2 linked regions of the Homo sapiens genome follow. The protein of the gene in region 1 interacts with the protein of each later gene in a biochemical or structural test. Each region holds a gene or a part of one and is shown on either strand. Other genes may lie near its edges.

What was found. Proteins that work in one complex are often made in the same cells at the same time.
Region 2: of the proteins of PRKCB (region 1) and SYT6, one has a biochemical effect on the other in vitro, tested with the Homo sapiens proteins (one study listed by BioGRID).

What each region holds. Positions count from the first base shown.
Region 1 is NC_000016.10:24,184,421-24,189,690, reverse strand, and holds part of PRKCB (protein kinase C beta type), read right to left. Parts: intron 4,581-5,270; coding exon 4,500-4,580; intron 4,232-4,499; coding exon 4,124-4,231; intron 1-4,123. UniProt on the Homo sapiens protein: Calcium-activated, phospholipid- and diacylglycerol (DAG)-dependent serine/threonine-protein kinase involved in various cellular processes such as regulation of the B-cell receptor (BCR) signalosome, oxidative stress-induced apoptosis, androgen receptor-dependent transcription regulation, insulin signaling and endothelial cells proliferation.
Region 2 is NC_000001.11:114,140,370-114,143,869, forward strand, and holds part of SYT6 (synaptotagmin-6), read right to left. Parts: intron 1-3,500.

The sequences.
Region 1 (5,270 bases):
AGCACTTACATTCTAAGCTAGCTACTTCTTTTTTTTTTTTTTTTTTTTTGAGACGGAGTCTCACTCTGTCACCCAGGCTGGAGTGCAGAGGCGCGATCTCGGGTCACTGCAAGCTCCACCTCCCGGGTTCACGCCATTCTCCTGCCTCAGCCTCCCGAGTAGCTGGGATTACAGGCGCCCACCACCATGCCCAGCTAATAATTTTCTTGTATTTTTAGTAGAGACGGGGTTTCACCATGTTAGCCAGGATGGTCTCGATCTCCTGACCTCATGATCTGCCTGCCTCAGCCTCCCAAAGTGCTGGGATTACAGGCAAGAGCCACCGCGCCGAGCTGCTACTTCTTTATTTACATGCATGAGCTTCCCTGATCATCATAATAACCCAATGAGGTGAGTATACTATTTTTCCCATTTGAATAAAAAGGCAATGAACACTCAGAGAAGTTGAGGAACAGTAAGGACTCCAGAGAGGAAGTGGTAGAGTCAGTAAGAGCTGGGTGCAGACTCCACCTCTGCCTAGCTCTAAAACTTGGGCTTTTAAGAAAAATGGGAGTGCATTTCACACGTGGTTTTCTCAGGAATTTTTGTGGCCTGGCTTTGTCAGGAGAGGTTTATGGAGGGTGAGGAAATTGAGCCAAGGCTTGACATTTGTGTAAGATTAGGATGGGAGGAAAGAAAGGGCAGTGAGGTTTTGGTTCACACTGATAATAACATCAATAACGGCTTCCGTGTACTGAGTATGACAACATCATATGCGTTCAGGCTCCGTGCTAAAGGCTTCCCGGCCATTACCCATTACTCTTTAAACTTTGCAACAATACTCTAAGGCCTCAGCAACTATTATCCCCCATTTTCCAGGTAAAGGATGTGGGTGCAGAGAAGTAAAGTCATCTGCCTAAGGTCAAACAGCTAAGGAGCAGGGCAAGGCTTTGAACAGCTCTGCCTGGCTCAGGACTCTTATAGCTTTATGTTCAGTCTCAGCTGTTCAGTGTCTGCTGGTTTTCACCCTAAGGTCCTGTCTATTTGGGCTTCTGTTTGCTTCAAGTTTGTTCAAAGTGGGAATAGCCATCTGAGTAAGGTTTTACTAATTTTTTTTTTTTAGTAGAAAATCGGGCCTTTAAGGGAATGGACATATAAAGGACACTGCTTCAATTAAACAGGTGACTGTTTTCAAAAGCTCAACTGAATTTCTGTCTAAGCAGGAGGATGCCAAGCAAAGAAAAGGTACTGCAAAAACATCCAGCATTAATTCGGAGTCTCTGCCCAGTTCCCGCACTCTGCTCTAATGTGCCCGAAGCCATGTAGACAGCTGGATTTAATCACTGTTCCAATCTCTGATCACCTCCCAGACGTATCCCCTGGGGCTCGCTGTTCCAGAGGAAGCATTTGGCTGTTTGCTTGAGCATCACTCGTTTTTGGAGTACCCTCCTTGAAGGAAGAGCCCCATTGGACTCAGCCCACTCAATTAATAATGGTCCCCAAACTCAATAGTAAGAGAGTCACCCCAGTTAATCATGAAGGTTATGGGTCCTGAATTAATAGAAAACGGCTCTACCAGGGAAACTGCTAATTGGAGCAGGAGCTGAAGGCAGCTGACCTGGAAAATGCTCTTTCCTCCATGACCCATTTAGAACCCCCAGCTGTCCAGGCAGGGCGGGCGTGTGAAGGGGAGGACCCTGTGGATGTATTAAACACCTACTATGTGCCCACATCATGCAAGGAGCTTTCTCTTATGTTATCTCATTTAATGCTCTCAAAAACTCTTTTCAATGAGTACTACTATTCCATTTTTTAAAATAAACAGAAGCCCAGAGATGCAAAGGAAGTGGCTTAAGATCTTGCACCTAGGCTGGGTGCAGTGGCCCATGCCTGTAATCCCAGCACTTTGGGAGGCAGAGGCAGGAGGATCCCTTGAGCCTGGGAGATCAAGGCTGCAGTGAGCCATGATCACTCCACGGCACTCTAGCCTGGGCGACAGAGCGAGACATTGATAAAACAAAACAAAACAAAACAAAACAAAACAAAACAAAACAAAAACACCTTGTGCCTAGAAAGTAGAAGGGTCAAGATTTGCAAAGGGTCCCTTGATCTCCAAAATCCCCTACTTTAAAAGTTGCAATTCCAGGGGATGCAAACTCAAATGCCAAGAGGAACCTGGCAGATAACACAATAGCGTCAGCACTAGTAATAGTAATAATAACTTCCAAGGGGCTTGGAGCAGAGTGCCAGCCTCTATTCTAAGTGATTTACAGTATTCAGCTGTTTAGTCATCAAAGAACCCAATGTGGAGTGCTATTATTATCCCCAATCTGCAGATGCCGTCAAACAACTTCCCCAAGGTCCTGCGGCAATTAATGCCTGAACCAGGATTTGAACTTGGAGAGAATTGGCCAAATGAGAACGTCTGAGAATTACAGAGGGCAAGCTCCAACTACAGAGGGCCATGGTTTCCAATCCAGCTGACTGGTGCTTTGTAAGAATGACAGGCCAATGTGGCAAGATCTGATTTTTCAAGAGAAACCTGAAAGCTGAATGTTTTTGAGAAATCTCTGGATCCTTATATGCTGGTAATTATTAAACAAACTAAAAGCTCCAGGTACCACCTTCTCTCTACCCGCCCCCACCCTTCAATAACTTGTCTACGGGGGCCTGTGGAGGCCTTCGTGTGTGCCTTTTTTTTCTTTATGGGCTTTGCTTGGGTTCCTAATGCACCTCTGGGACTCCCCTCTCTATTCTTCACTTTCTTTCTCCCTGCCTCACACCCTCAAAGAAAATATTTTCAAGCAATTCACTTTAGATGTTCGGGATTGAGACTAATTCACAGGTGGTTTCCCCAGGGATACATGCATCTTAGCCTATGCAGCTGAGGTGCAAACCTTAGGTGATTCATTGAGAGTGGGAATTTAGGCAGTGTGACAAGGCGCTTTTAGGCTGAGAGGCTGGCCCAGCTATTCCAAACTGGGCCAAGCCTCAGATTGGCCTGCCTGAGTTTCCCAGCTTTCCTTCACCCAAGACAGTGCATCCAGCATCTGGCTGGGGTCAGGAAGAACAAAGTAGGGCATGAAAAGTCTGCAAGCATCCCACAGATCTAGGACTGGCAGCCCTGGTTTATTCAGACACACAGGTGGGAACCCACTGATTAAGGCACGGCCATGTTCTAACCTGTACCACTGGGTGGAGGGAGAGCAAATCCTTTATTAGTATATTATGTGTAGAACATATTTTCTGGGCGTCTAATTCTATTGCTTTCAGGCTTCCATCAGAGTTGAAAAATCACTTCATTTGGACAGTATTTTTAAAGGCAGTGGTCTGCAAGCCAAATGGAGACTTTTCCAAAATACTCATACCCAGACTTAATCTCTGGGGTAAGGCAGAAGCATGTGCATTCTGGTAAGGCACTTCGGGTTATTCTGATGGCTCCAAAGGTGAGGGTCGCTGATCTTTAGGATCTCACAGAAGTCACTGTGAGTATGCCCTGGTCCAACACAAGATGCAAAACAAACAATCCTTCCCCATAAACACACATCCTGCTTTCTTCACAGGTGCCCTGTGCATAAACCGTAGATGTCCAAGCGTGCATGCCCTTTTAGCCATTTGTGTGTGTGTCTGGGGAGAGGAGACAGTGGGATTTTGAGTACATTGAATTTCAGTCTGCTTATCTAGAGAATTCCTTAACCTCAACACGGCGTGGTATTTTTTAGAACAAAAGTTGCACGCTCTTAGTATTAACTAAACACATACAGCAGAGCAGGGCAAGATAGCCTGAGTTGTGCAAAAGACCTCTTGTGCCCTTTCCCATGACTTCCAGCTCTTTGACAAAATCTCTGTGCTTTCTACCTCATTCATTCAATAAGCATTCCCCTGTGCTGGTTCAGAGACTGCAGCCCAGCCAGCAGCAAGACGCAGCTGCAGGCAGCTCTCTACAGCACTTCTGTGCAAATCAGAAAAAAAGCTCTCTCTCCTCCGGGAGGTAGCAGCTCCACATCAGGGTTCTCATATTGGCAAATGGAGTGAAGGGTGGAGTTCAGGCTGTGTTCCCCCCTGGTGGGGTGTTCTTGGGCAAGGTACAGCCCACATGCCTTTATGTGGTGGTCCTGGTCACAGCTTTAAGAGATGCACTTACCCCTTTGCAGATGGCCACAGCTTCCTTGGACATAGACTTGGGATAGGCTACGTTGTGTTCCATGATGGATTGGAAGAGTTCATCTTCATCCTCCCCTTCAAAGGGTGCCTGTATGACAGGGGAGGGTGGGAGGAGAAGAATCCCTGCTTGAACCCTCCCCCTAGCTCCCCTCAACTGGCAGACCCTCCTCCCTGGGGCCCACAGTGAAGCCACACACCCAGGCTTTCAAATGACCACAGACTTGTATGACCCCAAGGCCGGGAAAGTCATAGAGGTTCCAATTTATGAGCTGTTACCAAACATGCATTCTCCTAAAGAAACCATGTGGATGGGGGTAGGGAGGACTTCTCTTATCGATCACTTAAAATTCAATTACCTGCCCAGCCAACATTTCATACAGCAGGACTCCAAATGCCCACCAATCCACGGACTTCCCATAGGGCTGATAAGCAATTATCTAGAAAAGAGAAGGCACCCTATCAGGGAGGTTTGCAGTTCATGTTTCTTCTGGAGACAGATTTCACTCTTCTTTTACAAGAAGGCCAGTGCCCACCTGAACTGTTTCTTTATATTAGCTATTCAGGGAATGACAGACATGCTTTGCAGAGGCACCTGCAGCTGGGCAAACACCTGTGGCTGTCACATTGCCTTTTCGAAGCACTAAGTAAGGTGTATTGTTATTATTATTTTCAAAACAGTGAGCATGGAATTTTTAAAAGGAAAAACTGTCTTTACTCCTCTGTAAAAGTTACAACATTTACACAATAATGTAAATATACTTAACACTACTAAATTGTATACTTAGAACTGGTTAAAATAGTAAATTTTACGTTACATGTTTTTAAAACATAATTAAACATAAAAACGTTTAAGAGATAACAACATTTGTCACTATTTTAATATTTCTTTATAAAAGATAGCTCAGCTGAGATAATAACATGAAAATCACCCATAATCCTTTATTAAGAGAAAAATTATGACTAATATTTGGTCTACTTCATTCCATACTCTTTTCTCTGAATACATATTAAACTCTGTGTGTATGTGTGTGCTTTACATAAACACTTTAGTATTTGGACGATTTTTTTTCTTTTTTTCTTTTCTTTTTTTTTTGAGATAGTGTCTCTTTTTGTCACCCAGGCTGGAG
Region 2 (3,500 bases), on another chromosome or scaffold:
TATTAAAGCTGCTACTATGGCCAGACTTAGAGTCATTTTTGTCTACAGCCCACTTCCTTAACAGGGTGTGATACCTTGGGGGGCAGAGGCTGGCTAACTCATCCTCTTTTCTTCTTTATCCCATCCCCACTGAGCCCAAGACAGGAACTCAATAAACATTGAGTTGACTTCAAGTGAATGAGATTGAGCATAATCTCTTTAAGGGCAAGGATTATGTTCTTCTGTACTCCCAGAACTCTGTGCATAGTAGGCTCAATAAATACTTCTATTAAGTTGGAATCTGATCTACACAGTGCACTTCAAAGCTAAATAGAGGCACACTTCATTTTGCTATGCTTCACTTTATTGTGCTTCACAGATCCTGTATTTTTTACAAATTGAAGATTTGTGGCCACCCTGCCTTGAACAAGTCTTTCTGTGCCAGTTTTCCAACAGCATGTGCACATTTTGTGTCTGTCACGTTTTGTTAATTCTCACATTATTTCAAACTTTTAAATTACTATTATGGTTGTTATGGTGATCTATGATCTGTGATCAGTGATCTTGGATATTCCTATCGTCATTGTTTTGAGGCGTCCTGAGCTGCATCCATGTAAGATGGCCAACCTAATTGATAAATGTTGTGTGTGTTCTGGCTGCTCCCCTGGCTGGCCATTCCTCTCCTTAGGCCTCTCTATTTGCTGAGGCACAACAATATTGAAATTAGGCCAATTGATAACCTTACTTTGACTTCTAAGTGTTCAGGTCAAAGAAAGTGTCACATGACTCTCATTTTAAATCAAAAGCTAGAAATAATGAAGCTTAGTGAGGATGGCATATCAAAAGCCAAGACAGGCCAAAAGCGAGGCATTTTGTGCCTCACAGCCAAGTTGTGAATGCAAAGAAAAAGATCTTAAAGGAAATCAGAAGTGTTACTCCAGCAAACACACAAATGATAAGAAAGCAAAACAGTCTTATTGCTGATGTGAAGAGAGCTTTAGTGGTCTGGACAGAAGATCAAACCAGCCCCAACATTCTCTTAAGCCAAAGCCTAATCCAGAGCAAGACAGTACCTTTCTTTCATTCTATGAAGACTGAAAAAGGAGAGGAAGCTGCAGAAGAAACGTTTGAATCTAGCAGAGGTTGGTTCTTGAGGTTTAAGGAAAGAAGTCCTCTCCATAATGCAAAAGTTCAAAGATGAAGCAGCAAGTGCTGATGTAGAAACTGCAGTAAGTGATTCAGAAGATCTAACTAAGATAATTGATGAAGGTGACTACACTAAACAACACATTTTCAGAGTAGAAGAAATAGCCTTATATTGGAAGAAGATGCCACCTAGGGCTTTCATAGCTAGAAAGGGGAAGTCAATGCCTGGCTTCAAAATTTCAAAGGACAGGCTGACTCTCTTTTTAGGGGCTAACACAGCTGATGACTTTAAGATGAACCCAGTGCTTATTTACCATTCCAAAAATCCTACGGCCCTTAAGAATTATGCTCAATCTACTCTGCCTATGCTCTAAAAATGGAAAAACAAAACCTGGATAATAGCATATCTGTTTAAGAATGGTTTACTGAATATTTTAAGCCCACTGTTGAGACTTACTGCTCAGAAGAAATGATTCCTTTCAAAATATTACTGCTCATTGACTATGCACCTAGTCACCCAAAGGCTCTGATGCAGATGTACAAGGAGATAAATGTTGTTTTCATGCCAGCTAAAACAACGTCCATTCTGCAGCCCATGGATCAAGGAGTAATTTCAACTTTCAAATCTTAGGCTTTAGCTGTCATAGACAGTGATTCCTCTGATGGATCTGGGCAAAGTAAATTGAAAACTGTCTGAATAGGATTCACCATTCTTGATGCCATTAAGAACATTCATAATTCAGGGGAAAAGGTCAAAATATCAACATTAACTGAAATTTAAAAGAAGTTGATTCCAAACATCGTGAATGGCTTTGAGGGGTTCAAGACCTCAGTGAAGGAAATAACTGCAGATGTGGTGGAAATAGCAAGAGAACCAGAATTAGAAGTGGAGCCTGAAGAATGGATGAGGAGTTGCTTCTTGTGGATGAGTAAATAAATTGTGGATGAGTAAATATTTTATCTTCTTGAGATAAAATATACTCCAGGTAAAGATGCTGTGAACATTGCTGAAATGACCACAAAGGACTTAGAATATTACATAACCTTAGTTGATAAAGCAGTGGCAGGGGTTGAGAGGATTGACTCCAATTTTGAAAGAAGTTCTACTATGGATAAAATGCTATCAGACAGCGGTGCATGCTACAGAGATATCTTTAGTGAAAGGAAAAGTCCATTGACGCAGCAAACTCACCGTTGTCTTATTTTAAGAAATTGCCACAGCCACTCCAGCCACCAGCAACCACCAAACTGGTCAGTCAGCAGCCATCAACATCGAAGCAAGACCCTCCACCAGCAAAAAGAGATTAAGACTCACTGAAGGCTCATTTTTAGCAATTTAGCATTTTTTAGCAATCAAGCTTTTAAAATTAAGGTGTATATATTGTTTTTGGGTGTAATTTTATTGCACACTTAATAGGCTACAGTATATTTTACACTGTATATGTGTATATATATAGGTAAATATATTACAATGTATACTTTTTGTAAGGCTTTAGCTGCCATGGATAGTGATTCCTCTGATGGATCTGGGCAAAGTAAATTGAAAACCATATGAATAGGATTCACCATTCTTGATGCCATTATATTTACAGTATATTACAGTATATTTTATACTGTGTGTATATGTATATATTCACATATATGTATATATACATATATGTATATACTGTATACACTTAATAGACTACAGTATATTTTATACTATATATATTTTATTTAATTCTATTGTGCTATTCTAATAATTCTATTTCTTTTTATAAAATATACTTTAGTCTATTAAGTGTACAATAGAATTACACAAAGTTATATATATGTTTACATGTGTACATATATAAATTACATATACTTATATGTATAAAAGTTTTAGATACATATATGTATATATAGTATAAAAGTAGTATAGTATAAAAGTTATGTGTGTATATATACATATATAGTATAAAAGTAGCACAGTTTAAAAGTTATATATATCTATATATACATACATACATATGTATATATGTATAAGTTATATATAACTTATATGTGTATATATACATATAAGTTATATATAACTTATGTGCATGTGTGTGTGTGTGTGTATATATATATAACTTTTATATGCACTGGGAAACCAAAAAATTTGTGTGACTTGCTTTATTTTGATATGTGCTTTATTGCAGTAGTCTGTAACTGAACCTACAATATCTCCAAGGTATTTGTGTACAAATGATTCCTAGAGCTGTCCTCCTCCATTCCTGTGGCTATTCAAGAGCTTTGCTGTAAAACTGGTATTTTAAATGTTGTGATTGGTTTGGAGGTGGGCTCTCACTCCCCCACCCCCAGCCCACCCCTGACCCCAGGGATGCCCATTATCCCAAGAAAGGGGTATGCCC